3 linked regions of the Homo sapiens genome follow. The protein of the gene in region 2 interacts with the protein of the main gene of each other region in a biochemical or structural test. Each region holds a gene or a part of one and is shown on either strand. Other genes may lie near its edges. The genes, in order: GLS2, RALA and RGL4.

What was found.
Region 1: the proteins of RALA (region 2) and GLS2 form a complex in vitro, tested with the Homo sapiens proteins (one study listed by BioGRID).
Region 3: the proteins of RALA (region 2) and RGL4 form a complex in vitro, tested with the Homo sapiens proteins (one study listed by BioGRID).

Annotation. Positions count from the first base shown.
Region 1 is NC_000012.12:56,483,977-56,495,170, reverse strand, and holds the start of GLS2 (glutaminase liver isoform, mitochondrial isoform 1 precursor), read left to right. Parts: upstream 1-7,009; 5' UTR 7,010-7,052; coding exon 7,053-7,234; intron 7,235-7,571; exon of another isoform or gene 7,572-7,602; coding exon of another isoform or gene 7,603-7,676; intron 7,677-7,838; exon of another isoform or gene 7,839-8,184; intron 8,185-8,218; exon of another isoform or gene 8,219-8,331; intron 8,332-11,194.
Region 2 is NC_000007.14:39,617,345-39,628,624, forward strand, and holds the start of RALA (ras-related protein Ral-A precursor), read left to right. Parts: upstream 1-6,227; 5' UTR 6,228-6,481; intron 6,482-6,982; exon of another isoform or gene 6,983-7,083; intron 7,084-11,280. UniProt on the Homo sapiens protein: Multifunctional GTPase involved in a variety of cellular processes including gene expression, cell migration, cell proliferation, oncogenic transformation and membrane trafficking.
Region 3 is NC_000022.11:23,692,356-23,701,754, forward strand, and holds the end of RGL4 (ral-GDS-related protein), read left to right. Parts: coding exon 1-173; intron 174-313; coding exon 314-636; intron 637-1,403; coding exon 1,404-1,619; intron 1,620-1,763; exon of another isoform or gene 1,764-1,991; coding exon 1,992-2,095; exon of another isoform or gene 2,096-2,594; coding exon 2,595-2,664; exon of another isoform or gene 2,665-3,162; intron 3,163-4,060; exon of another isoform or gene 4,061-4,139; intron 4,140-4,258; coding exon 4,259-4,333; intron 4,334-4,815; coding exon 4,816-4,890; intron 4,891-5,482; coding exon 5,483-5,506; intron 5,507-5,856; coding exon 5,857-5,978; intron 5,979-6,199; coding exon of another isoform or gene 6,200-6,290; intron 6,291-6,488; coding exon 6,489-6,528; coding exon of another isoform or gene 6,529-6,758; 3' UTR 6,759-6,813; downstream 6,814-9,399.

The sequences.
Region 1 (11,194 bases), on a different chromosome or scaffold from region 2:
TCACAGAAATTTTATATGTAGTATAAAGTGATCTGCCCGCCTCGGCCTCCCGAGGTGCTGGGATTGCAGACGGAGTCTCGCTCACTCAATGCTCAATGTTGCCCAGGCTGGAGTGCAGTGGCATGATCCCAGCTCGCTACAACCTCCACCTCCCAGCCGCCTGCCTTGGCCTCCCAAAGTACTAAGATTACAGCCTCTGCCCAGCCACCACCCCATCTAGGAAGTGAGGAGTGCCTCTGCCCGGCCGCCCATCGTCTGGGAAGTGAGGAGCGCCTCTGCCTGGCCGCCCCGTCTGGGAGGAAGTGAGGAGTGCCTCTGCCCGGCCACCCTGTCTGGGAAGTGAGGAGCACCTCTGCCCTGCCGCCCCATCTGGGAGGTGAGGAGCGCCTCTGCCCGGCCACCCATTGTCTGGGAGGTGAGGAGCGCCTCTGCCCGGCTGCCCCGTCTGGGATGTGAGGAGCACCTCTGCCCGGCCGCCACCCTGTCTGGGAAGTGGGGATGGCCTCTGCCCGGCCGCCCCGTCTGGGATGTGAGGAGCGCCTCTGCCCAGCCGCCGCCCCCTCTGGGAGCCGCCCCGTCTGGGAAGTGAGGAGCGTCTCTGCCCGGCCTCCCCGTCTGGGAAGTGGGAAGCGCCTCTGCCCGGCCGCCCCGTCTGGGAAGTGGGGAGCGCCTCTGCCCGGCCACCTCGTCTGGGAAGTGGGGAGCGCCTCTGCCCAGCTGCCACCCCCTCTGGGAGCCGCCCCATCTGGGAAGTGAGCATCTCTGCCCAGCCGCCCCGTCTGGGAAGTGGGGAGCGCCTCTGCCCGGCTGCCCCGTCTGGGAAGTGGGGAGTGCCTCTGCCTGGCCATCGTCTGGGATGTGAGGAGCGCCTCTGCCCAGCTGCCACCCCCTCTGGGAGCCGCCCCATCTGGGAAGTGAGCATCTCTGCCCAGCCGCCCCGTCTGGGAAGTGGGGAGCGCCTCTGCCCAGCTGCCCCGTCTGGGAAGTGGGGAGTGCCTCTGCCCAGCCGCCACCCCCTCTGGGAGCCGCCCCATCTGGGAAGTGAGCGTCTCTGCCCAGCTGCCCCGTCTGGGAAGTGGGGAGTGCCTCTGCCCGGCCGCCCTGTCTGGGAAGTGGGGAGCGCCTCTGCCCGGCCGCCCCGTCTGGGAAGTGAGGAGCATCTCTGCCTGGTCGCCCCATCTGGGAAGTGAGGAGCACCTCTGCCCAGCCGCCACCCTGTCTAGGAATTGAGGAGCGCCTCTGCCCGGCTGCCCCATCTGGGAAGTGAGGAGCACCTCTGCCTGGCCACCCGCTCTGGGAAGTGAGGAGCGCCTCTGCCCGGCCGCCCCCTCTGGGAAGTGAGGAGCGCCTCTGCCCGGCCGCCCCCTCTGGGAAGTGAGGAGCACCTCTGCCCAGCCACCCCGTCTGGGAAGTGGGGAGCGACTCTGCCCAGCCGCCCCGTCTGGGAGGTGTACCCAACAGCTCTGAAGAGACAGCGACCATCGAGAACGGGCCATGATGACGATGGCGGTTTTGTCGAAAAGAAAAGGGAGAAATGTGGGGAAAAGAAAGATCAGATTGTTACTGTGTCTGTAGAAAGAAGTAGACATAGGAGACTCCATTTTGTTCTGTACTAAGAAAAATTCTTCTGCCTTGGGATGCTGTTAATCTATAACCTTACCCGAACCCCGTGCTCTCTGAAACATGTGCTGTGTCAACTCAGGGTTAAATGGATTAAGGGCGGTGCAAGATGTGCTTTGTTAAACAGATGCTTGAAGGCAGCATGCACATTAAGAGTCATCACCACTCCCTAATCTCAAGTACCCAGGGACACAAACACTGTGGAAGGCTGCAGGGACCTCTGCCTAGGAAAACCAGAGACCTTTGTTCACATGTTTATCTGCTGACCTTCTCTCCACTATTATCCTATGACCCTGCCACATCCCCTTCTCCGAGAAACACCCAAGAATGATCAATAAATACTTAAAAAAAAAAAAAAAAAGAAAATTCATACAGTTAAAAAAAAAAAAAAACTTTCCTGAAAATCAGAAAACTAGAATGACAGTTTTTTTGCAAACTGACAGGTCAAAGTAGGTGATGTAAAAAATTTCAAATTATATACAATCTTAATAAAATATGGCTTATGGAGCATTTCACTTAGGTAAATGTGGTTAAAAGTTAATTTAACCTAGTCTTTTAGAGAAGGGTCTCATTTGTTCACTACAGAGTAATACAAGATTCTGACATCTTTCATAGTCTTTAAGTCAAAGAAAAACAAGTATTAAAATACTATTTCTCTAGCAATAACTTGGAGAAGGGAAAAAAGAAAAAAGAAAATGCTATCAAGCAAACCCCGAAGGTATTTTCTTCTTGCTGTGTTGGCAAAGGCTTTCAAATTCCTTCAAATTAGCTTTCGCCTACAGACTTTTCTAAATCCTTTTTAGGAATTCTAGCAAAATCTACATTATTTTAGTATATTTTGTTGATTAAGACTTGCTAGAATCTACTTTAATAGCTATTGGAGAACCCAGATTATACAAGATATTATTTGGAAAAATAGAGAAAATGCATGTTAGGCATCGTAAATGGACCAGTGTGATGATATGTTTTTTAATAGGCTTATATTTATATTTTTTCAGTCCTATAAATGTTCATTTTGTTATTGCTAAACCAAAGAAGAATTAGGAAAGCACACTGGAGTAGATCACAGACACGCTTAAACTTTTATTAAATTTCATTTACTCCATGAAAGTCTAGCATCAAGTTAAAACATGCATCCCATACCTACATCCTCAGTTTCATTGGTCCCCATTCTTTTTTTTTTTTTTTTTTTTTTTTTTGAGATGGAGTCTCGCTGTCACCCAGGCTGGAGTGCAGTGGCGCGATCTTGGCTCACTGCAACCTCTGCCTCCCAGGTTCAACTGATTCTCCTGCCTCAGCCTCCTGAGTAGCTGAGATTACAGGTGCATGCCACCACGCCTGGCTAATTTTTGTATTTTCAGTAGAGATGGGGTTTCACCGTGTTGGTCAGGCTGGTCTCGAACTCCTGACCTTGTGATCTGCCCACCTCAGTCTCCCAAAGTGCTGGGATTACAGGCATAAGCCACCACGCCCGGCTGGTCCACATTCTTATACCCACGTTTCATTCCAACCAAACTAGAGGTAGAGTCCCTCAAATGTTCCTCTCAGGCTATGTTTATTCTTGTAGAGCCCTCTGTCTGAAACACCTCTCGTGCTTTAAAAACCAGCTCCTGTCAGTCACCATTCCTCTTCTATCCCAGTGGCCCTTCACCCCCAGCTTAGTTAGATGTCCCCTTTATACTTTCTTCTGCATGTCTCTACATCACAGCATTTTTCATTAGGAATTTTAAACATAAGCTTTCTCATTTCTCCCAGTAGAAACTGGTTTATTAAATTTTTAAATTTCTGGATTTTCCAGCACTGGACCTGGCACACTGAATGCCAACAAATAAATATTAATTGAGTGAATGGAAGCTCATTATGTCAGAGCCCCAAGTACTTACATTTTACCCAGTAAAATACAAGTTTATCTTTTACAAATGGAGAAACTAAGGCAGAAAGGAGTTTGTAACAATAGTATCATTAACAAAGATTAATAAAAAAATGAACTAATCTTTTACTTGGACCAATTAACATCCTAGCTACAGTCTAAAGAGTAGAACAGGCCAGGTGCGGTGGCTCACACCTGCAATCCTAGCACTTTGAGAGGCTGAGGCGGGCAAATCAAGGGGTCAGGAGTTCGAGACCAGCCTGGCCAACATAGTGAAACTCCGTCACTACTAAAAATACGAAAATTAGCCGAGCATATTGGCGGGTGCCTGTAATCCCAGCTATTCGGAAGGCTGAGGCAGGAGAATTGCTTGAACCCGGGAGGCGGATGTTGCAGTGAGCCAAGATCACACCATTGCACTCCAGCATGGACGACAGAGCGAGACTCCATCACACACACACACACACACACACACACACACACACACAAAATAGAGTAGAACAAATGAGTCTCTAAATCATAAGAAATAAACAAACTCCAAACATCAATTTCCTATCACAGAGGATTAGCTTTTCCTTCTTTCTTTCTTTTCTTTTTTTTTTTTTGTTTGAGACGGAGTTTTGCTCTTGTTGCCCGGGCTGGAGTGCAATGGCGTGATCTCAGCTCACCGCAACCTCCGCCTCCCAGATTCAAGCAATTCTCCTGCCTCAGCCTCCTGAGCAGCTGGGATTACAGGCATGAGCCACCGCGCCCGGCCCGGATTTAGCTTTTATTAAGGATTCAAAATCATTAAGTCTAATCCTCTCTCACATACCACAAAACTCTGGCACAGCCATGGACTAACCTAAAAGCCCACTGTTAGAGACACAAAGAACTTTCTTTCAGTTATGAAAATCTTCATTTCTAGCTGCCCTTGTCATAGTTGGCTAATAGTTTTGCACAAATTAAACTAGATGATGAGTATTTTTCAAATTAGAAACAAAAAGAGGACCTGACCCTGCCAAGCTTTAACCACCTGGGACAACAAACTTGTTCTTCTCCAGCATCTTATACTTTACACAGTACCATTGGCCTCCCAAGTCACCAGTTCATGCTCCATCCTCATGCAAAGACAGCAATATTGTATTGGAGACAGTTAGTCCAAAGGTCCAAGTGCAGCTGGAGCTAGTTCTCTAAGCAAAGAACCTCTGCTTCCATGCATAGATCTTCTTCACTACCCAACCAGTTCCTATTAGTGGAAGAGTGCTGGGAGAAAGAGAGTAAGGAACTCATTAGAGTATAAAGCTAATTCAAAGAGGCAGAAATAGGAAAAAAAGGAAGCAAATTACTTCTGGGTAATGTTTAGAAATTCCCTAACAGATGGTATTTTTCTCTTGAATAGATCAAAACGTTTCAGATAAATCATATTTCTATGAAACAAGGATAAGATTCGTCTGTTACGTATGAAAAAAACTAATGCAGGATTGAGTTTACGTTAAGTATTGAGACCCAGAACTCTGCCTCTTGGGCAAAGCCAAGCATAAAGCAGCAAGCCCTCCCAGAATTAGACGGCTTTCCACGGACAGGAGAACAGATACAGCAGACACAGAATGACTACAGAAGGCGAAAACAAGCAAAAACAAATGTCACTCCATCTGGTTTTAAGCCAAATAAGCCCTCCAACCCTAACCAAGGCAAAGGAGAACTGCCTTTCCACAGAACACACCTGACTGGTTTCAGTACTTGTTTTCCCACGAGTACCCTTGAAACTCATTTTAATCCAAAAATGAAAACTATGGGACAAGCACGGTGGCTCATGCCTGTAATCCCAGCACTTGTGGGAGGCTGAGGCGGGCGGATCATCTGAGGTCAGGAGTTTGAGACCAGCCTGACCGATATGGCGAAACCACATCTTTACTAAATACAAAAAATTAGCTGGGCGAGGTAGCAGGCGCCTGTAATCCCAGCTACTAGGGAGGCTGAGGCAGGAGAATCGCATGAACCCAGGAGGCGGAGGTTGCAGTGAGTCGAGATTGCGCCATTGCACTCCAGCTAGGGCAACAAGAGCAAAACTTCGTCTCAAAAACAAACAAACAAAAACTAGTATTTTGTGATACAGCCAGAACTATCACAAGGAAAAGACTCCCAGTACTGTATCATAATACTTCCACATAAAATACCTCCTTTAGGGATGGGGTCATTTCTCCCGGGATAATTCAATTCAATGCTTAATTTTTGAGAAGGGCTGCATGAAGGAGAGACTTGTAGTTAAAAAAAAAAAACGGGTCTAATTTCTGGTTCTGGTACTTACTAGCTGGGTTACCTTATGCGAGAATTCTTAATTTCCTAGTCTTAGTTTCCTCACCTTCAAATTGAGACTAATAACTACTTTGTAGGTCTCTGGTAAGAGGGAGAGAGAAACTAAGCGGTTGGAACACCATGGGCACTCAATAATAGCTATCATTTACATAATGAGTCCCTACTAAATATGGATGCTGGGTTAGGCGCTGCCGAGATACAAGGTGAAAGTTCTAGCTGCAAATGGCAAAAGTCCTGAATGTTCTTGGATTTCAAAATGCTTTTTGTATATCGCCTCTTTTCTGCCCGTGAGGAGGACAAGGGCAAACAATTAAAATAGGAAAAATGTGGGGAGCACTTCATGGTTTATAAAACGTTTTTCTGCGTGCCAACTTATTTTAATGTCTTAACTTTCCAGATTTGAAAACAAGTCCTACACCAAATAAATGGTAGAGGGACACAAACTGGAACCCAGGCTTCCTAACCGCCAGAGCGACCTTCCCGCCGCCCAATGCCTCCCTGAGGTGCTGGTCGGCTGCTTCTGCCCGGGGTACCCAGCAGTCATCCTACTCTCCACTCAGCACCACCGCACGTCGGCCGCGCGCCACGCTACCCGCCGGGTTACTGGGCGCTGGTTTGGCCTTCGGAGGTCGAGGCTCTCTGAGTGACCTCCTGAACTGGGCTCACTCTTACTTAGCCTCCTCTCTCGAGGCAGCACCCTCCTCTCTACACGACAACTCCATCATTCGCAGCCCCACGGTGTTCCCGGGGAGCGCCTCCCGCCCCCACCGGCTTCGCCTCAGCTTGTCCTCGCCTTTCCCGCCCTCAGCATCCGCGGATACCCGCGCTCGCCGGGCCCACGCGGAAGCATCCGCAGACTGTCGCAAGGTCCCACCGTCTTGCTCTCATTGGGCAACCTTACCCTTTCCCCGCCTCAATGTTTTTGCTTCCTCAGTGATTGGACCTGGGCATTGTCCATTCCAGCTCCCAGGCACCGCCCTCTCTCCACCCACTAGAAAGCCACCCGGGTTCTCCTTCATCCCCAACGCTCCTCACCTAGCCCCTGTCCTGAGGGTGCCCCTAACCCTGGAGCCAGCTTTAAAGGGGCAGGCCCCTTCTCCTGCCCCAGCCCCAGCCCCACCCACCGGGCCCACATTCTCCGTCTTCCAGGTCCAGCGCTCCCTCACAGAACTCCCCCGCACCTTGTCTCGCTCGCTCCGCCCCTCCTTCCCAGCCACAGCTAGAGGTCCCGGGCGCACCTGCAGAGCCGGAGGCTTGCTGGGGCATGCGCTCCATGAAGGCTCTGCAGAAGGCCCTGAGCCGGGCTGGCAGTCACTGCGGGCGAGGAGGCTGGGGTCACCCGAGCCGGAGCCCCCTCCTTGGCGGGGGCGTCCGGCACCACCTCAGTGAGGCCGCGGCGCAGGGCAGAGAGACGCCACACAGCCACCAGCCGCAGCACCAGGATCAGTAAGGCTCCTGGGACAGGGCAGGGGACGGGCTTGCCCCCACTCCCACTGTGGTTCTCGCTAGTTCCCGAGTGCCCTTCCAAGGCAGCGCCGCTCATCTCCCCTCTCCTCGCTCACTAGCCCTCGGTGCCTTTTCCTTTGGATGTGGGGCTTTGGGTGCGCCGCGCTCGGGCGGTAATCTGCCGTCTGCCTAGGAGTGCGTTCGGGCAAGCGGGTCCTGGGGATGGCGCCTGTCCAAGGTGCGCACTTAACCCGGATCACAGATGCGCGCCGAGTGTTGCTTGGCTCACGTGTCTGAGTGCAGGGCCGGGCTCACGCCGCCAGTCCTCACCTTCCCTAGTCCTCGTGTGTATTTTAGGAGATGCGTGGATGTGGAACAGCCTCCTGCCTCCGGTCCAGGTGTACTGGGGTCTGTGTGTTGTGTTTCTGCGTGTTCTCGGCAGGTAATGTGTGATGCGCGTGTATTATTGGTGCGCAGGTACGTCCATAAGTGTTGGGTGTGTGCGTAGCAGTGCTCCCTGAACAGCAGAATGGGGGGGAATTTCCAAACTGGTTGTTGAATGGGGAGAATATTTGTAATGGAGGAAAGGTCTTTAAGACGCAGATTTCCCAAACCAGAGCCAGTCAGAGCCTTTATTTGTGCTGCCCAGGCTCCAGAATCTAAAACGTTCTCTTCCTTTGGGTGTTTCTTCCACCCAGGATGCCAAACCTTTATCTTCCCCACCGCCTAGGACACACTTGGTGGCTGAGCCTTTTTCTCTGAGACCCAGACGGTGCTGAGCAGGAAATCTTGTCCTCCCCAGAGGGCCAGCATAGACACTGTCCAAAGAGCCCCTGCTCTACTGTAGCAGGAACAGGAAATGGGCCATCTCCCTCGTCGCTGCCATCTCCCTGATGACACTCAGAAACATGGACACCATCAGTAAAGTAGCCAGACTGACACAACACTACCTCACCACTACTCGAGTCTCTGACACAACACTACCTCACCACTACTCGAGTCTCTGTCGTAAGGGACACCAATAGGTATTATTTATTATTAATGACATTATGCAGTACTTTTATTTCTTTCTTTTTTGAGACGGAGTCTCACTCTGTCACACAGGCTGGAGTGCAGTGGCACCATCTCGACTCACTGCAATCTCCACCTCCTGGGTTCAAGTAATTCTCCTGCCTCAGCCTCTCGAATAGCTGGGATTACCTCGAGTAGCTGGGATTACAGGTGCGCGCCACCACAACCCGCTACTTTTTGTAGTTTTAGTAGAGACAGGGTTTCACCGTGTTGGCCCTGCTGGTCTTGAACTCCTGACTTCAGGTGATCCGCCTGCCTCAGCCTCCCAAAGTGCTGCGATTACAGGCATGAGCCACCACGCCCGGCCCTTTTCTCTTTTTCATAGTCATGGTGTCTGCTTATCCATATTACACAGTACTTTCCCATCAGCTTCTTCTTAAAGAGACACAGAACATTTAAAGGATAAGCCCTCTCCCTCCTGTTCTAGTCTCCACCCCAACTTCCCCCCAGGTATTCACCATGGGAGAAATAATGGTGGGATACAGCAAAGGCTGAACTTCCCTCATCTGTCCGCCTTCTGCAGAGTAGGGAACTAGAGGTATCCCTGGTTCCCCACACACACACCTCCTTATCCAGTGGAGTCTGGTGATGGAAGTGTTTTTAGGGGACCTTGTTTCTTCTGCCCAGGGAACCCCCTATCATATCCTCGGACTGGTGCTCCCCAGGCAGAAAGGGTTGAGAGCACTGGAGAGTGATGTGCTCTGGCAGTGTGACACCATGATGGGGTGGGGTTCCTGTGTTTGGGGGAGGAAAGAGAGCAGCAAAGAGGAAATGCGCTGTTATTCAGGTTATTGTTTGTTTAATATTTAGCTATTTAGCTGTATTTATGACTTTTTTTTTTTTTTTTTTTTGGAGACAGAGTCTCTTTGCCGCCCAGGCTGGAGTGCAGTGGCGCAATCTCGGCTCACTGCAACCTCTGCCTCAGCTTCCTGAGTAGCTGGGATTACAGGCACCCACCACTACGACTGGCTAATTTTTGTATTTTTAATAGAGATGGGGTTTCACCATGTTGGCCAGGCTGGTCTCAAACTCATGACCTCAGATAATCCACCTGCCTCGGCCTCCCAAAGTGCTGGGATTATAGGCGTGAGCCACCGTGCCGGGCCATATTTATGACTTTAAAAGAAACACAAGAGTATCAAGAGGAAAATATCCCAACACAAAGAAATGATAAATGTTTGAGATGATGGATATACTAATTACCCTTATCTGATCACTATAATCCTGTGTATTGAAACATTGCTATGCATCCCATAAACATGTGTACAATTATGTTTCAATTAAAAAATATATAAATTTAGAGCCAGGTGCAGTGGCTCACACCTGTAATCCCAGCACTGTGGGTGGCCAAGGCAGGGGGATCACTTGAGCTCAGGAGTTCGAAACCAGCTTGGGCAGCATGGCAAAACCCTGTCTCTGCCAAAAAAAAAAAAATACAGAAATTAACCAGGCATGGTGGCGCATGCCTGTAGTCCCAGCTACTTGGGAGATTGATGTGGGAGGATCACTTGAGCCCTGTAGGTCGAGGCTGTAGTGATCCATGATTGCATCACCACACTCCAGCCTAGGCAACAGAGCAAGACCCTGTGTCAAAAATAAATAAATAAGTTTATTACTTAAAAATTTTAAAAAGAAATATCCCAGTATTAGAGATAACCAATTAATATTGTGATATATTCATATATATCCTATATATGTATATGTAATTTAACAAAAATGGGATAATAGTCATATTCTTGAACTTATCTTTTTCATTTATGAACAGCTTTTAATATCATCGAATGTGTATGACATTGTCATCTTGTCATTTTAAAAGATTCCATTGTTTGAGGTATCATAGTTTATATAACCAGTCTTCAATTTGGTTACTATATAGTCTTGTACACTTGTTCAATTATTTCATAAATTCCAAGGAAATTTTGCCCCCAGAGATAATTTGATGTCATTAATATCATGTATAGTCTTCTAGAGATATTTTATGCATAAAATACATGCTGATACTACTTTACCTTTTTTTATACAAATGGTATCCTATAAACAATGTTCCTATACCTTGCTTTTTTGGTATCATACTATACACATTGCTGTTGTACGTTGCTTGTTTTCCCTCAACATTACATTGGTGATCCATCCATATCTGAGGGATATGCAGTTTTTTTAGGCTTGTGATACATTCAGTGGTATAGCATTATTTCCTGTCTTCTGTTGGCTTCCAGGCAGAGTCCTGCCTTCAGAGTGTTCCTATGTACTTTCCTTCTTGAGTTATCCCTCAGATAGCTTTTTTCCTCCTCTCCCCCCTATAGGCATTAGCTTCATTGTGACAACCGGATTTCCCCAGAAGCAGGAAAACTCTTCTGGTATTCCCTCTTCTGGTACTCCTCCTGACTCCAAACACACACATGCCTAGTCTATGCCAAGCTGTTTGAGTATTATTTTTTAATCCATTGTTTCAATAGATAATATATTCCATATGGTTCAAAATTCAAAATATACAAAAGATAGTGAAAAGTATCCTCCCATCCCTTTTTCCTGGCACCTATGTCATCTCTGTAGAAGGAGATGAATCAATCTTACCTATTTATGTATTTATGTATTTGAGATGGAGTCTCGCTCTGTTGCCCAGGCTGGAGAGCAGTGGCGTAATCTCAGCTCACTGCAACCTCCGCCTCCTGGGTTCAAGCGATTCTCCTGCCTCAGCCTCCTGAGTAGCTGGGATTACAGGTGCGCGCCACCACACCCGGCTAATTCTTGTACTTTTAGTAGAGATGGGGTTTCACCATGTTGGTCAGGCTGGTCTCGAACTCCTTACCTCATGATCCGCCCACCTTAGGCTCCCAAAGTGCTGGGATTACAGGCATGAGCCACCATGCCCAGCCAGTCTTACCTATT
Region 2 (11,280 bases):
TATCACTACTTCTACCTTTTTCCAGGATAAATCAATTCATTTATAATACAATAATTGGTTTTTTTTTTTTTTTTTTTTTTTTTTTTTTTTTTTTTTTTTTTTTTTGAGATGGAGTCTCGCTTTGTTGCCCAGGCTGGAGAGCAGTGGCGCGATCACGGCTCACTGCGAGCTCCGCCTCCCGGGTTCACGCCATTCTCCTGCCTCAGCCTCCCAAAGTGCTGGGATTACAGGAGCCACTAGAAATTGATGCTGGGTATAGGGTAATCCCTCAAAAATAATATAACTTATAAAACTGAATAAAAACAAAAATGGATGTCAATTTTCATAGTGACAGGGACTGACCAAAGGCATATTTTCACAGACTTTGTCCAAATGTATCAAAGAGCATTTTAAAGTATTAAATTGGGTTCTTCCCTTACTAGTAATGAAAATGCATAATTTTATTTATAATTAACAAGTGTAAAAAGTTGTTCAAGATTGAAAAACTGAAAAACTTGCAGAGAAATAAGGGAATAAAATAGAGCCACGTATATCTATTACCTCGTTAAGGGGAAATATTTCATCTGGAAGATCAATCCAAACAATAACTTCTAAAAACTAAATGCTTAATTACATACCAATAAGAATCAATTTTGGAGCTAGTTCAGTGATAGGAAGACAATGTAAAATACCTTATCTTATATGCTAAATTAGATAATATAAAAATACTACACAGCTATACATCCACAATTTTATTTAATAAGTATATCATTAACATTTTCTTAATATATCAGAAAAGATGAAAAGAAACAATATAGAAATATTTTCAGCTATACAAATTCAGGGCTTCCATGACAAATAAAGGCTAAAGATTCCACCTTTATTTACATACATTTTTTTCTTCATAGAAAAAGTCGATATCCAATAAAATGTTACCTAATGTAACCCCAGGCAAAGTGAATGCCATGACTGGACAATGGAGACTTATTCGTTGAACCGTTACACCTAATTACCATGTGCCAGATACTGTTCTAAGCACTCTATGGATGTTAGCTCATTTAATCTTAAAACCATGTCATAGAATATGGTAAAAAATAAAAATGAAAAAACTAAAATTGCTACTTTTCTCCCCACCTCTTCATCCTACCCCATCATATATTGTCAGTAAATGGACAGCAGGAGTCCAATGAAAATATATTTAACTTGGACTCAAAAGATTTGAGTTAGTTTCTGGCTCTATTTAGGGTTCTGTGTGACCTTGAACAAGTTATTGAAACCAGAACTTCCCAAACCTGACTGATCATTGGAATTCAAGGGAGAGTGTTATTACAGTTACAGATGCCTTGGACTTCACCCAGTATTTTCTAATCCTAAATCTAAATATTTTCTGTTTAGAGTGGGACTTGAGAATCTGAATTGCCTTTGAAACTACACAGGTGATTGTGATAAGCAGTCACATTTGGGAACCACTGATAGAGTAGTCTTATCCTCTAATCCCTTGACAGAAAAGTATAGAAATATGTGGTCCACAAGGGTCGTCGGCATGAAGGGGAGAATTATGAAGACCCAAACTCTCATAACCCCACTCTTTACACATTCTCATTAAAGCTGTGTTTAGATATTCTAGATGACCCTTTTGTTGTGGGTCATCCGGACTATCTAAGCCCAACAAACATATCCAGAGGCATATCATACAGGTGACTGTCATCTGCATCACCTACTTAAGCCTATCTCTCCAAGGCATGACGTCATTAAAAATGAAGTGGGAAATTGAGGCAATGGTTCCACCAATTTAAAGTACAAACCCAAATAAACTATCTTCACATGAATGTGCTGAAAATGTGTACGACCTCCTAAAAAAGTTTCTGAGGTGATTGTATCAGCTTTTTTCCCGCTAATTCAACTAAACATCACAATATACATTTTACTCATCCCCAAAATATTTTCTGAGTACTTATTTTGGGCACCATGAAGGATACAAAAATGAATAAAACAATGTACCTGTCTTCAAGCTGGTAAAGATACAGCCATAAACATAAGAATTGTAGTTTTCAGTTTTAAAAACGTTAAGTTTGGCTGAATTTTGGAGATGCTGCAGGCAATCAATAATAAGCCAGAAATGTCCATATTATAAATACATTCTGGACTGTCATATCAAGCTGGTGACCCTGGTATAAAGTACTAAAAGAAACAATATATTTTGAGAATCTCAAAATGTGTGTTTGGGTATGTTACTTGACAACTGTAGTGAATTTTTAAGTCTTTAAAAACTAGTCTCAGAGCGCTAGTCTTTCAGCACTCTGAGCCTATTTCTTTCAACAATTTGTATCTCACAAAATTGTGAAAACAAAATGAAATAGTACAAATGTCAAGGTGTCACGGAATTTTTTTTCTTTTTTGAGACAGGGTTTCATTTTGTTGCCCAGGCTGCAGTACAGTGTAATGATCACAGGCACTGTAGCCTCGACCTCCTGGGTTCAAGGGATCCACCTCAGCCTACTGAGTAACTGGGACCACAGGTGAATGCCACTATGCCTGCCTAGTGTTGTTTTTTTTTAATTTTTTTTTTTAATAGAGATGAGGGCTCCCTATGCTGTCCAAGCTAGTCTTTAACTCCTGTATTCAAGCGATCCACATGCCTCGGCCTCCCAAAATGCTGGGATTACAGGTGTGAGCCACCACACCAAGTCATGGTGTCATGAATCTTATAGATAATGCTCATAACTCTAATAAATAATAAAACATGATTTTGAGTTGATTTTTCACCAGTGGTGACAAATGGCTATTAACCAATTACTTTCTTATCTGGCCCTAAAACACAAAGAAGCCTTGTTTGTCATTGCTGTTCCCAGATGTATAGTTAATATACATTATATGATAATTTTATAAATTGGTATATAAGCAAGTGTATAAAAATAAACATGCACATTATGTAGTCATGAATACATTTAAATGTTTACATTATGCATACACCTCTCTAAAGGAAATACTGAAGTCACCAATTTAATGGAAAAAATTCTCATCTACTTTAGGGATAGACATTGGACAAAACTTCACAAGTCTATATATTTCATTACATGTTTGTGATTAAACAGTGATGAGAATGACAGAGTTTCACAGGAATGTTCAACTTAATTGTGTCAAACATGTAACTGTCTATAAATTCTATAGGGACTGCATTATTCTATGGGGACATGAATAATGTTTTTAATACAAAATTCCAGTTAACTGACTGGAGTAGACTAATCATTAATTCTAAAACATGCTTCTGGCAAATCCCTATCTACCCTGTATTTTCCCCCAAAGCATATATTAGCTATGAGTAGCATGAATATAAAAGTTGTGGTTACCAAAACTTCTTTTTACTTCCCTCTTTCATTAACTATATTTGTTAATACACAAGGTTTGATCATAAATAGTAAAGTCAATTCACAAGTTAAGAAAAAAGATCTAAGTGTATTTCAAAACAGGATCCTTCATGTTCTTTGAGTAATCCAGGCAGCAAAGTCAGGAATGCTCATGGGTGCTACTGGATATTAGTGCTAATTACTAATAATATGTACTTACAATTATGCCCTTTCATCCAAGTACCTCAAAGAGCTTTCATAGCATTAATTTGTTATTTCCTATAATATCTTTGAGAGGCGGCTGATAGAAAGTTATTATTATCTCTATTTTACAGTCAGAGAAACTAGGGCATAGAGAGGTTAAGTAACATTGCTAGGGTCATACGGTGAACAACTGACAAAAAAGGGACTCAAGCTAATTATTCTCATTTCCTGTTCAGTATATTATCCATTATATGGTTGTTCAATACACCTAAATGCTTTTTTATCCTAGACAAATTGAGAATACTGTATTTAAATAATCTAAGACGTAAGTGAACGCGTTTCTCTTTTTTTGTGTGTTCAAAAATGCTGCTCTACAGGGATATAGAGTTAAAAACTAATAATTAGTCTTTGGTTTGCAGCTGTAGCTATTATTTATAGGGCTTTTACTATTTGTGGTTTTCTGAAGCTCTGCTCAAAATGAAGTATTCTATTTCTCACTGCTTTATGCTAGGTTAGCATAGCTGTGAGCCACCAAAAAGCAGCTGAGACAGGCTGACTAATGAATTTGAGGTTGTCTTTCATTGCGTTCCTATTGCTGACTCTTCTTGAAGTCATCCTCCTTCTAGCTCTCCATTCAGCAGATATTTGTGCAACCCACCATCCTCAATCCTCAGCCTATGGCCAGCTTAACTGTTGTCAATGATTAAATTTAAAATATTTTTATTGGAATGGAGCAATTCCTACAGAATAAAAAAGAAAAAAATTAAAATATTAAAATATAAACATAGATAATATTTCATTTTATGAGTTAATGATGCTATACTATTAATAGTTACCACTGTTACATCCAGTTTCTGCTAAACCTGACCTTTAGGGTCCTTAGAAGACCATTAAACATTAGAATATTGGTCTATGGATGGACACATATCACCATATTGGGTTTTTTAATGCAGTATTTCAGTAATTTTCCCAAGTAAAGGCAGGGAGAAAGGAGAAGTGGTTTTGAAACTGTGCTCAATGACGTAAGACTGCAGTCAGCTTGGTTATGGTCATCTAAACCTGTGGTGTTTCCAACTTCAGCCCAGCTCCTCCCTAGAGCTCTAGACCCATATAGCAACCACCATTAGACAGCACCACTCTTACTTCACTCATCAACTCCAAAACTGAACTCATTTTTTTTCTGCAAAAATGTCCCCTCCCAGGACTCATCCTAACTCTTCCTTATCTTATTTAGTAAAATACACCCTTATCCTGCCCCTCCCTCAAAGCAAAACAAGGCATCATCATTGCCTCTTCCATTCTCCTATCTGGCAGCTGCCCCTAGCAACCAATTACCAGTTGATATGGCCTCTTGAATATTTTAGGAATCCATCTCCTTTGGATGCTCACTACCATTCACACAGGGTCCTTAAGTTTTCTCTTACTGGCTTCTGCAATGGCCCCCTTGTGGGCTCTCTGCTTATCCTTCTCTGCCCCCCCACCTCCACCCCCCCAAGTTATCTGTTCTCTACCAACAGAAGAATAGCTTAAATTGTAATCTGTCCACTCATTGCCTCACCAAGGCATAGACGATTCGTGATTTGGCTCCTGTTTTCTTCTCCAGCCTCATCTTCTTCAGCAACCTAAGTTTGAACTTCAAGACCTGTAATTATTACTCATTCTTCTCAACAAATTATTTGTCCCCGTGCTGCATCTCCTTTCTGTTCGGATCCGGATTTGCCATCCCACCCCTATTTTTGTAGTAGAAAATGCCTATTTATCTTTAAAACTCTAACCTACGTTAGTAAAGCTATCCATTCTTCACGCTGTACATCTTGATAAACCATACTTCCAATAGCAATGATTTGCTTTCATGTATGTCTGCCCACTAGACTGGACATTCCTTGAATGGCTCATACCAGGAATATAGTTGGTACTCAATTTGTGGGGAGCAAAGAGAGATAAGCGAATAAATGTCAAGACATAAGAATCTGTAGCTGCTAACTTAAATTTACGGATTTAGTGAAACTACTTCTCACAAGCTACCAAATCACAGTGCCATGGGGCCGCAAGATGATCTCAGTGCCACACCGACACCTGCAGAGTCGCAGGGGGGTCCGACACCCCTCAGAAAGAACTCGCAGACCGTCCGAGAAAGCGAATTCTCCAGGGGATCAGCAGTTAGATGAGGCCCAGGGCAGCCACGAGACCCTCCAGCCAGGGTAGGCGGCTGACCCGCCTCCTGGGATTTGGCCCGTGACAAGCCACGTCGCCAGCTCCGCTCTGAATACCCCCGGCCACGCCACACGAGCGGCCTCAACCCTGAGACGCCCAGGGAACATGAGCTGACCCTCTAGAAGCAAGATGGCGGCCTCCGCTCTCCCCTCCTTCCCCCAAGAACCCCCTCCTGGTCCCCAAAAGAAAGACAAGGACACCGCGGCAACGACGCCGAGATCCGGGAACCTCCGCGAGGCCCGCGGCCACTCCCGAGCCCCCGGGAGATGACTTCACCTCGCGGAGCTCAGAGAGCCGGGGGTGGGGCCGTCGGAAAGACAGCGCGGACAGCCCTCAGCTTGCAGGGGGCGGAGGCCGGGCAGCCTGCGCCCTCCGAGCCACTGTTCTGCGGCCCAGGCCCATGATCACCCTCCTCTCAGCCCACGGACAGGAAGTCGCTCCCCAGCTGCCCCGCCCCGCTCCCCAGCGCCCCGGAAGTGATCTGTGGCGGCTGCTGCAGAGCCGCCAGGAGGAGGGTGGATCTCCCCAGAGCAAAGCGTCGGAGTCCTCCTCCTCCTTCTCCTCCTCCTCCTCCTCCTCCTCCAGCCGCCCAGGCTCCCCCGCCACCCGTCAGACTCCTCCTTCGACCGCTCCCGGCGCGGGGCCTTCCAGGCGACAAGGACCGAGTACCCTCCGGCCGGAGCCACGCAGCCGCGGCTTCCGGAGCCCTCGGGGCGGCGGACTGGCTCGCGGTGCAGGTGAGCGATGCCCGCTCGGGCCGCCCGGGGAGGGACTGGGGCCACCCGGGCGGCGGCGGGGGTGTGTCCGGGCGGCGGCGGGCCGAGGCCCTGACGCGGGTTCGGGCTGCCGAGATTGCACATCCCACGTTCTGCCCGGGGACGAGCTGCGAGATGAGCCCGGCTGGAATCCGGGGCACCGCGTTCGCCGCTGTGGGGCGAGTGAGCCCCCGAGAGTGAGCGGCTGCGGAGAGGTCCCCTGCGCCCGGCAGCCGGTCTCAGTTGGCCTCGTCCGAAGGTCACCCCGCACCTTTCGTCCACGGCGCCCAAGTTCCCGCCCGGGCGGTGCCCGCGACCTGGGGCAACCCGCTGCCGCCGCAGTCCCCGCGCCTCACTCCACCCCTCTCCCCTCCTTCCCTTTCTTTCCACTCCTTGCCTGTGCTAGAGCCGCTGCTTTTTAAGCATCTCCGCCAGGGTTTTTTGTTTGTTTGTTTTGTTTGTTTGTGTTTTTTTTTTTTTTTGCCAGTTAAAGGAATGGTTTTTCAGACTTAAAGTCATTAGACTCTCCGCACTGAACTGAATACCTGGCCTTGGGCGCTTGCACAGCTTTAGCCCATTTTCAGGTAATCTAGCTTCTAATATGAGGAAGAGAATACATTTTGGGAGAGAGGTGTTTCCTCTGTGGTTCGTTTCTGAAAGATTTCCAGAAGTGGAAGATGTGATTGGCATGCTTTAGCCTGGATATATGTGTTTAAGTAGACGGGGGTGACGGCACACAGGGGTGGCAGTGTTGTTTCAGGATTTAGGGAGAATTAGGGAGTTAACTGGCCTGTGCTCGGAAACCTGAATGTCCAGACTTGTAAGAGCTCATCCAAGTGTGGCTGAGGTAGTGTGAGAAGTCCCGTGCCACGCCCTACGTGTCAAGCTGAAAAGCACCTAATTTACAAATTGTGTGGTGTGGGGGGGGAACAACCTTTATAAAACATGTATCATAAGTTAATTCTTTTCCAGAAAGTAAATTGCAACTTTAATCATATTCCAGAAATTGGATAACAGATTTCATTGGTAAACTCTTACAGTATGTTTATTAATGTATTTCAGTGTGTCTTATTAGCTCATGTTTTTCTGTCTCTGGTAATACAATATTATTCTAAACCGACTCCTGTATTAAAATAATACACTATTATTGTGAAGTATTATCTGACAACACCGTTTTTTGACCTTGGATTTCTTTAGGGCAGGAGCCATGTCCTACTTATGACTGTTTCTATGCAGTATGCCTTGAACATAGAAGCTGTTCACACATTTCTGCACTGAATGAATGAGTGTATAGGTTATCTCACAGTCACCATCCAGGAGTTGCTTATTTTTGTTGGGCTAGGCTGTTTGTTTTGTTTTAGGTTCTTGCCACTTACAGACTTTACTTCGTGTTTCATTCTTCAGCAGTCAGAGTTCTTTGCCTTCCAAAACTATCCTCCTCTGAAAGGTTAAAATTATATTAAAATTGTGCTGGGCATTATAACTTGTATTCTAGTGTTAAATGCTTACTACTTGAGCATATTCAGAGTTAGTAGGAAGAGACTGCCTGGTGATACACATCAAGTTTATGTTTGGGGTTGATAACTGTACCCTATCTTAATGAAAAAGAGGAAATTAGGAGTTACCATTGTTTGGATAACGTGGTGCTTCCCAGAATGCTTATAGTGGTTCATTCTTCCCATGAATACACGCAATCCTCTGAAATCCTGATGTGACCTTGGCATGATTTACCAATAGCCTCTTTTACATTTATTTTCCAAGATCCAGATGCTGTTCTCTAGTGTGTTTGCTGAGTGTGCAATAATATGGATCATTTATTTTGAAGCAGTACTTCATTACAACACTTTCTTCACAGGGCTTTCCAAAGGAAGAAAGGGCTAATTATAGAAAAGAATCTTGTCTACCATTTGTGAGGGAATATTTTTGTCTGTAGATGGTTGGATTATTTTCACATTAGGGAGGTTCAAATAAGAAGAAAGTGCTGACGTTTTCTCTCCTCTCCAAGTATGTGGTGGTGGTCCTGCACTGTTTTTCCAAGCTTAGCTTCTACAGAACATAAATACATGTACCAGTGTCAATTCTTGTAGATATGCATATCAGTGTAATATGCATTTGTATTCTTTAGTAGATGAGTGGCAAGGACAATTACTTTTAAAATACTGGAATAAGAGGCTGTGAATGTTAATGAGGAAAAAGACTATGATTTTGAAGGAGACAGTTTATGATTTTCATTGTTTTATAAAATATTTTAACTCTTAGACACTAAGGAGAGGGAAGCCAGCAATTTCTTACCTCAGTGACATTACCACTATACAGAGGTTAGATTTTCCTTCTTTAATTCAGCAACCCTCTTGGTAATAAGAGTTCTCATGTGTTGATTGCCTGCCGAGCACTGTGATAAGAGCTTTACTTAAATTATTTCTAATCTCCACAACACTTCTGCAAGACAGGTAGTTTTCCCATACTTTATTAAGGTAAATTGAAGTTATTTGCCAGAGGCTAGGCACCTAGCTTGTGTTTAGTAGAGCCTAGATTTGAAAGTAACAATTGCTGAGAGCACTGAGTATTATTGCAGTTAATCCTAAATGGCTGTGGAAAAGGCAGTTCTGACTGAGCTGGAACTGGAGCTTCAGGAAGGTGAAGATACTGATTCCTCTCTCTTGGACATCAAGTGTGGCCTGGGGTTGCCAGCAGTCCTGGCCAGGTGGCCTCAAGCAGCAGCCATTCTTCTCTTTTATCTTCAGCGTGCCTACAAATACAGTGTTATCACCGTCCATGTGTGCCATGATGGAAAAATGGTTGGGCATTTTTCCCGTGGGTGTCCCGGTAAAGTATTTGGACTCAATTCTGGTGTTTGATTAGTGCTTTTTAAAGTAACAGAATCGTCCCTATTTGAGAGGAATACCATAAATCTATTTGTAGTGACCTTTCCTTGAAATCACATTTTTTTTAGTTCGTTCTTTCACTAATGGAAATGGGGGAGAAGCTATGGGGGACAGTAGAAAGAATGGTAAAAGAAGCAGAGATGTGCTTGGTCTGTTTTTAACCGTTTGAGACCATTAATCATTTTCTCTGGGTTTAAGATGGAGGCTTAAAAGTGGCAGAAGTCTTGTAAGGGTTTAGCTGCTATTCAGTGCTGGTAGAATTCTCTTCCCTCCTAAGCCTGTGCACTTTTTAAAATGCACTTTTAAATAGGCTTAATTTGAAGAATGTGTCCATCTCTCTCTCTCTCTCTTTTTTTTTTTTAAAAGATGTACCCTTAAGTAAAAAACAGCTGATTGTCTGGCCCCCATAAGTAACAGTTATTCTGTTTTTTCTTTAAGACATCTTTCTTATTACCTTATCGCATTCATAAGGATTTGGGTTGCCGTATAGAAAAAAAGAAATTAAAGTTCTATGGGTTTCTAAAATATGTATGAGTAAATTTTAGGTGAGAATTTGCATCTTTGATTTAATTATACGTGAAGGTGATGACTTAGTTTCTGAAAGTCAAGAGGGTAGTCTTTACAAGCCAAAAAAGGCATGCTTCCATAAAATTATACTATTCTTAAAGGCCTTCACAGCTAGGGTCCTATATTAGATGCAATAGATGTAACACTGACATACATAGTCTCCTTAAAGTCTGGGATCCAATTTTATTGCTGAATTTACTTTTGAAACTAAATGTCAGGGTTTGGTAATGTTATTTTGGACAATAAGACATAGTTAGATTATAAAATGGCGTATACTCCCAGATTTATTGGGAAGGTGGGCAAAGATCCCCCAGTTTCCAAAAGTTATGATTATGGTCATCTAAGCCACAGGATCTGTTTTCTTATGTAGTTGAGAAGCTAACATAGTACTCCATTAAAAGTGGAGGTTGCCACACTGCGTGACCAAACACTGAGTTCAGCTGCCCTGTCTAGATATTCTGGATTACTACAGCAGCCTTCTAGCCTATGGTTGGAACCCATCTGATACTTTTCCCATTCTTGCTTAGAACAATGGTGATATTTCTCTGCTTAAAATCCTCTTGTGGCTCTTTTTTGCCCATTAATAAAATTCAAACTCCATTTATCCTTAATCTCATATACAAAACCTTCAAGATGTGCTCCTTACCTAACTCTCTTTTTTCCCCTTTATCTTTCATATTTTTCATTTTTTTTCTTACCTAACCCTTTAGCCTTATCTCTCTTCTTGGATGATCTTTTGTTCTACCAATACCCAGCTTCTGGAATGCTAGTGTTTGTTTACTCAGTCCTCCATTTCCTCTTCCTGGAATTCTAGCCTCTCTTCCTTCCCCTAATCTAGTATACTCCTACTGGTCCTTCAGAACTCAGTTTAGGTTATAATTCTCCAAAAAATTACAATTAGGTTCTCTCTCTGGATCCCATCCCTCAAAAAACAAAAAACAAAAAACCTTTAAGACTGGGCTGATTGCTTCTCTTATGTGCTGTCATAATATCTGTTACAGCTCTTAACTACACTGGAGAGAGTACTTTCATTAGCCTATTGTAAATTTTGTTGACAGCAGTCCACAGTAACCTCATAACTACACACACACACACACACACACACACACACACACACATTCTTTCTCTCTCTTAAAGGCCTTCTTCGTAGGCCTTTATCAGTCAAGTGCCCAAACTTTCTCAATTCATGGCACCCTTATTATCGCAGTAATTTTTTTCACAGCATCCCTAGGTCAAAAGAAACACCTAACAGTTTAATTTTTTTGTTTTTTGTTTTTTGAGACGGAGTCTCGCTCTTTCACCCGTGCTGGAGTGCAGTGGCGCGATTTC
Region 3 (9,399 bases), on a different chromosome or scaffold from region 2:
CAACTGGCCCCCCGAAAACACTTCAGTTTACTATCAGCCCCCGCAACGGTCATCTTTCCGGATAAAGCTGGCCTTCAGGAACCTCTCCTGGCCTGGACTGGGCTTGGAGGACCATCAGGAAATTGTCCTAGGCCAGTTGGTGCTTCCGGAGCCCAACGAGGCCAAGCCAGATGGTGAGGGGGCTTGCAGTCTGCAAGACTTTCCGGGGGTGGTGTTTTGGGGCTACAATTCCCTTAAATTCCACCCGGTCATTTCTGTGCTTGGAAAACCCAGTGAAAAATGACTGGTGTGGTGACCTTTTCTCCTTTTCCAGATCCTGCTCCACGTCCTGGGCAACACGCATTAACAATGCCGGCCCTGGAGCCAGCACCACCACTGCTGGCGGACCTGGGGCCTGCTCTGGAGCCAGAGTCACCTGCAGCCCTGGGTCCACCAGGATATCTACATTCAGCACCAGGGCCAGCACCAGCACCAGGGGAAGGGCCCCCTCCAGGGACAGTGCTGGAGCCACAGTCAGCCCCAGAGTCCTCCTGTCCCTGTCGTGGGTCTGTAAAGAACCAACCCAGTGAGGAGCTGCCTGACATGACGACCTTCCCTCCCAGGCTGCTGGCAGAGCAGCTGACCCTCATGGATGCGGTGAGCAGCTGAGCTTTGCAGGCTGTGTCTCTGGCACCAGCTGTCTCAGACCAGCCTCTCCCTGAGGAGCAGCCAATGCCCTCGGTCCAATTTCAGCCCCACTTCTTACCAACCGTGGGATCTGGATGAGTTTCCTCACCCACAAGCCTTCCCTGTCTGCATGTGGACGGCAGAGATGGGACATCACCAGCGCCAGCTGCACAGAGTGACTGTGCAGACTGAGTGACAGGAGATGGACAGAAAGCAGGGCAGGGCAGGTGCTCACTGTGGGGCAGGCAGGGCCATGGGTCACTCACCCAGCTGCTCAGGAGCCTCACTACCCTCAGCACTTATTAGGTACCTGATGCATACTGGATTCTATGGTAGACACCCAAACAGAGCCCATAGTTGCAGCTGCCACAAGGAAAGTGCACCGGTACGGAGAGGAGTAGTAGAGGGCTGATTGGGATGGGAGGAAGACGAGGCCTCAGGATGGGCAGGCCTGAGCCACCTTCTAGTTCTTAGAGTGTGGATGGCCTGGGAGAAAATGTCACTCTCTCTTCCCACCCTTGTTGGGTTCTAGGCCATGATGCATTCAGGTCCCTCGGGGGCAGAAAACCAAACCCAGGGACTCCCACAAGTCTGGAGCCCATTTTAAAGCTTTCTGAGCTCCAGCTTGGTTCCTGCCAGAGACCGTGGATGACTGTGAGCTCAGTCCCTGCCTGGGACTGTGGGTGACTCTGAGCTGCAGTGTGCTGTGTCCGTGACACTCTCCTCCTCCCCCAAAGGAGCTGTTCAAGAAGGTGGTGCTCCACGAATGCTTGGGCTGCATCTGGGGCCAAGGACATCTGAAGGGGAATGAGCACATGGCACCCACAGTTCGTGCCACCATCGCACACTTCAACAGGCTCACCAACTGCATCACCACCTCCTGCCTCGGGGACCACAGCATGAGGGCCCGGGACAGGGCCAGGGTGGTGGAGCACTGGATCAAGGTGGCCAGGGTAAGCTATGGTTGGGCCTGGGGATTCCCTCTTTAAAAATGGGGAACTTCCTCTTCTCCTCCATCGGCTTTCAGGATCGGCATCTGTATCTCTGGCCTGGACCCTGCACATCCCCTAGGCTCTTCTTGCCAGAGCTTCACTCACCTTGACTCCCACGGCCCAGTGGTGGCTGCTCACTTCCGACCTGGGGTCTTCCTTGGGTTGAACTAAAATCCTCCTAGATGAGTGACATCCACTCGGCCCCAGGTCTGCCCTCCTGAGGCTCCCCAGGCCTCTGCTTCATCCAGGAGGGGAGATCTCAGCAGAGGGGGCTGAGGCTGTAGTGGGCCAAGCTCCAACTCTGAACCGCACAGCTCATTCTTCCCTCTCCAGGAGTGCCTAAGCCTCAACAACTTCTCCTCGGTGCACGTCATCGTCTCTGCTCTGTGCAGCAACCCAATAGGTCAGCTACACAAGACGTGGGCAGGAGTGTCCAGGTGAGGAGGGCTCTCTCCATGGCAGCATCAGGGTTGACCTAGGGACTCACAGGTCTCCCCCCATGTGCCCTCAATGACTCTGAAAGGTTCTTGGAGTCCAGGGACACTGGAGGCAGGGATGGGCCGGTGGCTGTGGTCACTAAGCTGCCCTGGACTCCTAGGCAAGGATTTCCAACTCAGGACTAAGGTTTTTTAACCATCAGGAACAGACTGGAGCCAACTGGAGGCTTTCAGGTGTTTGTACCCAGCAGTGGAACTCTGTGTCCAGCTGAAAGCTAACTGTAAACACGCAGTGGCTCATGTGAAGTGGAGATGGGGCCCAGGGGAGGAGCATGAGAGGTCCCACCCTGGTCCTCTGGAGCCCCTGTGATCAGAGGACTCCACTGAAAACTCTCACCCAGTAAGCTGGGATTCACTGGGTTTTCAAACAAAAGGGACTGGAACTCACAAATCTCCCCTGATTCCCAAATTTACCCTTCTTTCTTTCCTCTGCCCATAGCAAAAGCATGAAAGAGCTAAAAGAACTCTGCAAAAAAGACACTGCAGTGAAGAGGGACCTACTGATCAAGGTACAGTGGAGTCTGGGAGATGCAGGACAAGTGTTTAAGGGTCAGAGAAAAGAGTGAGTTTGGAAGGGCATTGGACCAGGTGTCGAGTGGTTATTTTGTTTGGTTTTGACTTACCTACTAAAAGTGGACTTGAAAAATTCCCTCCATGCCTACCTTGGGCCAACAGGAAGAGTGGTGTGTCGGTCCATGGGCACGTGGGGGCATGGGGGCAGGAGGCCCTGGAAATGGGATGTGGCAATGGCTGCTGGGCTGCTGGGCTGCTGAGCAGGGGTGATGAGCTGCAGCATTAGCAGGGCTCTGGCTCCCATGCTGGTCCATGCTGCTGGCATGGAGCTTCCTCCAGGCTGGAGGGTGATCATGGTAGGTGGGACTTCCTTCCTTCCTCAAACCGGCCAGCAATTCCTCAGGAAGCCAGGCCTCTGCTGCTGCTGCTGCTGCTGCTGCTGCTGCTGCTGCTGTCTGCAGCACACCTCCATGGGCAGGGGGCCTTGGCCTGCACTGGGGGAGAGGGGGAACAACAACAGAGGAAGCTCATGTGGCAGGGAGTCCAGTAACTGCCCAGCTTTGGGTACCAATGGGCATACTGGGGACAGACGTAGCTGTTTGCTGGGACTCCCCACTCTGCCCTTTGCAGACACCCAAAAACGGTCATGTCAGAGGATTCTCACCGGTTAGCAGCGACGCATGCTCATGACAAGTATCTGGGGGATTCATACATTGCTAGGGGATCCTCCCTGACCAGATCTCAGAATCGTCCATGCAAATGAGAAGGCAACATGTCACCCCACCCAGGACTCTGGAAAACCCTGCCATTGCAGTCAGAGATGGCGCATCAGGAGGCTACTTCCTCAGTGGAGAAAGAGAGAGTTCCGTGCACGGAACTCCCCTGGGGGATCATTGGCGAGGCGAAGCCTTTGGCATGGCTCAAACCCAGTTTGCGTGGCAGAGATTCCAGTGGGGCTGGGATAGGCAGGTGCCACTTAACCAGGTCTCCTAAAATGCCCTGTCCCTTTCCCATCACGACTGTATGTGGCTGGAGACCTAGACACTCAAAGACTCCAGAGAACACGACCCTGATGGGTGGTGGTGCTGGGATGTGAGCTGAAGGCAGCCGAGACGGAGCCTCCAGGAGCAGAAGGAGGCGTCCTCTCTTTGGGGGCCCTGGGGAGCCACTGCCCGCTCTGGGCCTCTGTTTCCTCATCTGGAAAATGAAGGGATGCTGAGCCTGTAGTGCAGGCCTCACAGGGTAGAAATGAAGTTCAAGAAAAGAAAGCAATTTGAGGGTGCTCGTGCCTGGTTCTTCCTCAGAGGGATGACGGTGAGAACAACGGCAACAGCTACAGGAAACTGAGCCCTCAGAGGCCCTGTGAGGTAGCTGTGGTTTGCATCACTCTTTACAGAAGAGGAAACAGTCTCAGGGAGGCCCGGCTGCAAGACTGGGTGACACACACAGGGAGTGTGGATCTGGGCCAGTGGTATGAGCACGGTGCCAGGTGGCTCCCGCCACTCCCTGGGGATCCAAGTGCGGGGTGGCTGGGGTGTAACTGGGGGAGAGGAGGAGAGCCTCACTGTCCCTGTCGCTGACACCTGGCAGGCGGGGAGCTTTAAGGTGGCCACCCAGGAGAGGAACCCCCAGAGAGTCCAGATGAGGCTGCGGAGGCAGAAGAAGGTGAGTGAGCCTGTGGCATGGACGGGCCGCAGGGGATCAGAGGACAGGGCTCCCTTCCCCGCCAGCTGGAGGCCTCCATATCAAGACAGCGGGGGCTTCCTCCCCAGCCCTGTCCTCCTGTGGCCACTGGGCCTGGAAAACCTTCATTTGAGAGACCAGAGGAAGGGTCTGGGAAAGCTGGACTCAGACTAGATGTGGGGAAGGGTAAAGCTGGGACCACAGGCCTTTGTGACTTGTTAAAATCCCACCATAGAGGTTAACAAGGAGTGCTTGCTAGACTTGGAGGTCAGCTGGGATACAGGAGGCAGAGAATTGGGAAAGGCAGCTGAGGGTCTTTGGCTGCTCCAACCGGGAGACCTGAGGAGGGGGCTCTGGGAGACAGGGGCTGATGGGATTTCATGGGACAGGACCTTGGGCAGGCACCTGAGGGCCAATACTCATCACCACTACCCCTCCCACCTCCCCACCCCTCCTTGGCACAGGGTGTGGTCCCCTTCCTGGGGGATTTTCTGACTGAGTTACAGAGGCTGGATTCGGCCATCCCGGACGACCTGGATGTGAGTGAGCCTGGGGCAGGGTGCTTGGGAACCAAGATCCTGAAGCTTGGGAGGAGAGGGTCCTGGACCGAGCCTTTAGATCTCAGCCCTTGGCAAACCTCCTCTCCTAAGAGCCTCACAGCTGCTCCTGTGGGTGGGGGTGTCAGGCCCATCTCATCACCTCTGAGTGATGGAGGCTCCATGGCAGCCACCAGGCCCTATTCCTGAGTGGTGAAGCTGCAGAGCTGCCTGACTGCAAAGCTGCTGAGGTGTGGGCTGAACTGGGCTCAGCTTCTCCCTAGGGTAGTCCCGTAATAGGAGGGTGAAATTGAGCCTCTCCAAGGGCAGGCAGTTCCAAGGTCACTGAGCGCTTTCTTTCTATGAGAGACCTCAGTTTCCCTGTCTGTCATCACAGAGGGTTGGGGCAGAAGGTCCCTGGGCCTCAGCTCCCATTCCCCCTGCTCTAGAGCCCGGAGCCTGAGGCAGGTCCAAGTCCTGTCGTGTGCACATCCCCTGACCCTGGTGGCCCTGGCAGTAGTGCAGCATGGGAAGGGGTGGGGTGGGGCTGGTTGTGGGCCAGGGGCCTTTCTGATGGACTCTGTCTGCCTTCCAGGGCAACACCAACAAGAGGAGCAAGGTGAGCAGCTGGGGCACTCACGTTGGATGAGGGTGGGGATGTGGACGTCACAGTCCACCCTGGGCAGGACACTCCCTGGCTCCATCCTCTACATCTTAGGCTTACTGGGAGTGTTTGACACACACAGGAGGAGGGGACCTATCCCAGGAGAAAATGGGAAAAGCACTGGAATCAAAGACCAATTCCTGCAGGAGGGGCTGTTTATATCCAACTCTGAGAACAGGCTGGGGGCGCTGCATGGGACCCCTTCAGAAAACTGCCCCAGGGACCAGCCCCTTCTCCCTGCCTGCCAAAGGCCCCCACAGCAACTTCCACCCAGGCCCTGTCAGCATCCTGTCCTCTGTCTCTAGGAGGTCCGAGTTCTGCAGGAAATGCAGCTGCTCCAAGTGGCTGCCATGAATTACAGGCTTCGGCCTCTTGAGAAATTTGTCACCTATTTCACAAGAATGGAGCAGCTCAGTGACAAAGAGAGGTGAGGGCCTAGCCCATGGGCTGAGGGTGGGAGAAGGCTCTCCATTTTTTTTTTTTAACATGGTCTGGCTCTGTCGCCCAGGCTGCACTGCAGTGTCACCATCTCTGTTCACTGCAACGTCTGCCTTCTGGGCTCAAGTCCTTCCTCAGCCTCCCAAGCAGCTGGGACTACCGCTGTACACCACCATGTCCGGTTGTTCTGCTGTTGTTGTTCTGGTACAGATGGGGTTTCACGATGATGTCCAGGATCGTCTCAAACTCCTGGCCTCAAGCAATCCACCCACCTCAGCCTCCCAAAGTACTGACGTTACAGGTGTGAGCCACCCCACCTGGCCTAGAGGAGGCTCTCCCGTGGCCAGCTGCAGAGAGCCTATGGCCATGCCTCCACGGCCAGCATCAAGCCCTGTTGCATGGGGACCACTGGGGACCCAGGATTCCAGCTGGGCAGGCACTGACAGGGGACCTGATGTGTGGCTCATGGTGGCCTCACAGCTGCTTCTCTGTCCTGCAGCTACAAGCTGTCCTGCCAGCTGGAGCCCGAAAACCCGTAGGCTGGCAACATCCTGCAGTGGCTGGGAACCCACCGGGATGCTGGCCAGAACACCGGCTCTGCACCATCCCTCACCCAGACCGTAGACACCAGGGAACCACATCTAGGAGGCTGGCAGCTCAGCTGCATCTTGCCCTGGATCCTCATCACCAACTGCTCCTGCTGGCCAGGATCAGGCCATGGGACTTTTGTGAGTCAGGCGGGAGACCATTTTATGTTTATTTTCTTTAGTGTATAAGTAAGGGTTTTTTCTTAACTTTCGTTAAAATAAAATTTTAAAAAACTATTCAAAATGTTCTGTAGTTGTTGGAATGAGAAAAGTAACTCCAGTGCGGTAACCATATACCAGTCTTTAGGATTCATAGCCTAGCATGTCAAATTGAGGCTATGGCTGAACAAGTTATGGAATAGCATTCACATTACACATGCCAAGCATTTAATGTTTTCCTTCTTTATTCAAATTATTGTTAACTCTGCTTAAGAAAACAAACAGAACAAAACAAAACCCCTTAAAAGCCATAGTATGTCACCCAATCTATGTCACCCATAGTATGTCACATTTGTTCTACTGACCAGCTATTCTCAAACTTAAATTCTAGTTAAATTCAAGTTCCACTGGGTTACTCAATTTTCTTAAGGTTTAAATATTTAACAAATCACTTAAATATTTACTGAAGGGCTGGAGATGGGAGGTATTTAAGCAAGTGGTAGGGCTGGCCTTCTCCAGAAGTCCTGGGCAGAAGGGAGCTGGCCATCAGTCTCCACGAAATACAGATAAACTTTTTCCACTGTGGATCTTCCCAGACCTTCTGACACCTCTCCCCTAAATGAACATCAAGGAAGGTGAGAACTGTTTGAACTCAGTATCTAAAAGATGTCCCACAGCTTAATTTGAACACAACCCCCATTGTGGGATATCAGACAAAAACATGCCAAAGAAATCAACATTTCAGGGTCTGAAACATGTAATACCCCCAAATCAACACAAAATAGACACCTAAATCCAATCCTGGAGCCGCAAAGCTCCTATAAGAAAAGCGGGAGTTTCTATTTCGGCAAAACTTGTATCTATGCACGCAGTTTGCAAAAAAGAAAGAAAAGAAAACCAAAAATTATCTATGGCAAGAAACCCTTTGACCATGCAATTGATTTGGCAATACTTTTTCTTATTTTTTATTCTTTTTGGATGGAAAACAAAAATGTGAATACAAACACATAGGACTAAACATCATTTTAGAGCTTCCGCATGGGGAAGAGAAACAATGAACCATTAAAGAAGGCATCCTACAGATTGAAAGAAAGTTCAGCAGAATCATCTGTGAAAGGGGTTGTTATCTAACATGTACAAGAAACTAACACTACTCTTAACTGGAAAAATGAACAAAACCTAATACCCAAGCTAAAACTGGGCAAAGAACCTGAACAGGCACATCTGAAGAGAAAACACGAAATTGACTGACAGGTCAAAGAGAAGTTGCTCAACTTCACTAATCCTCACACAAATGTCTAACTGCAAACCAGACTCAGATACCTCTCACTCTAATTAGAATGAAACTTACCAAAAACAACAAAAAACCCATATGTTCACAGGCAGTGGCCAACGTAGAAACGCAGAAAAAGACACTTTTATAAACTATTGGTGGGAAGGTACATTACTAGACACACGAAGCGAAGCAGTTGAAGGTGCCTTAAACATTTTACATTACAACTACCCGTTCACCTATCAATCCCACCACTGGTTATACACAGAAAGCGCATGGAATCTGTTATGTTGAAGAGATATCGGCCTTCCTATGGTGACTGAAGCACTACTCACAATAGCAAAGGTATCCAATCCACCTACCTGTTCATGCACAGATAAAGGGATAAAGAAACTGCAGCACGCAGTGGAATCCTCTTCGGCCGCAGAAATTCATGAAATCATGTCATCTGCAGCAACGTGCAGAAACCTGGAGGACATGACCTTCAACAAAATGAGTCAGGCAGAGAAAGACAAACAGCATGATTTCATGCATGTGAGAATGAGATCAACTTTCTCTCTAAACGACTTTATCTCCTAGAACTAGAAAGTTCCACAGTGGTGAAGAGAGGCGGGGGGTTGGGGAGTCCGGGCAGGAACTGGGAAATGGATACAATGTTACATTCAGATGACAGGAATAAATTCAGCTGTTCTACTCCACAGTAGGGTGTCTAGAGTTAACAGTATCCTACCATATTTTCCAAAAAAGGCTGAAAAGAAGGATTCTGCATATTGCAACGACAGAGAACTAATAAATAATAACTACACAAGGTAACAGAGACAGTCAATGCCTTGCTTTCATCATTACACAAGGTATATATGCATGATCAAAATGTCCCACTCTACTCTTTAACTGTATACCTTTACTACAGAGCAAATTGGTTTTAAGGACACAGAAATAAACAATGCTGGAGTTCATGTGACACCAGGAAATGCCCGGCATTTCCAAAGCAATTCTGAGAAATCCAAACTACATTGGATGCATCACATTCTCTGATTTGAAATTTCACTCAAACTCTAGGGACCTGCTTCCACATGGATGAGTGGAAGAGAACCTGAAGTAAACCCACACACCTCATACGACCTGATTTTGGATGAAATACACAATGATAAGTAATGGGGAAAGAACTCCCTTTTCAATAGTCTTGGGGTAAGTGGCGAGCCATATGCAGAACAGTAAGTAACACTAGGCCTCTACTTCTCACCATGTGCAAAAGTTCACTCCGATGAATGAAAGATGTAAATGGAAGACCTCAAACTACAAAAATCCTACAAGAGACCCTAGGAAGTACCCTTCTCGACATCGGCTTTGACAAAGCATTTATATGCCTAAGACCCCACATGACACTGCAA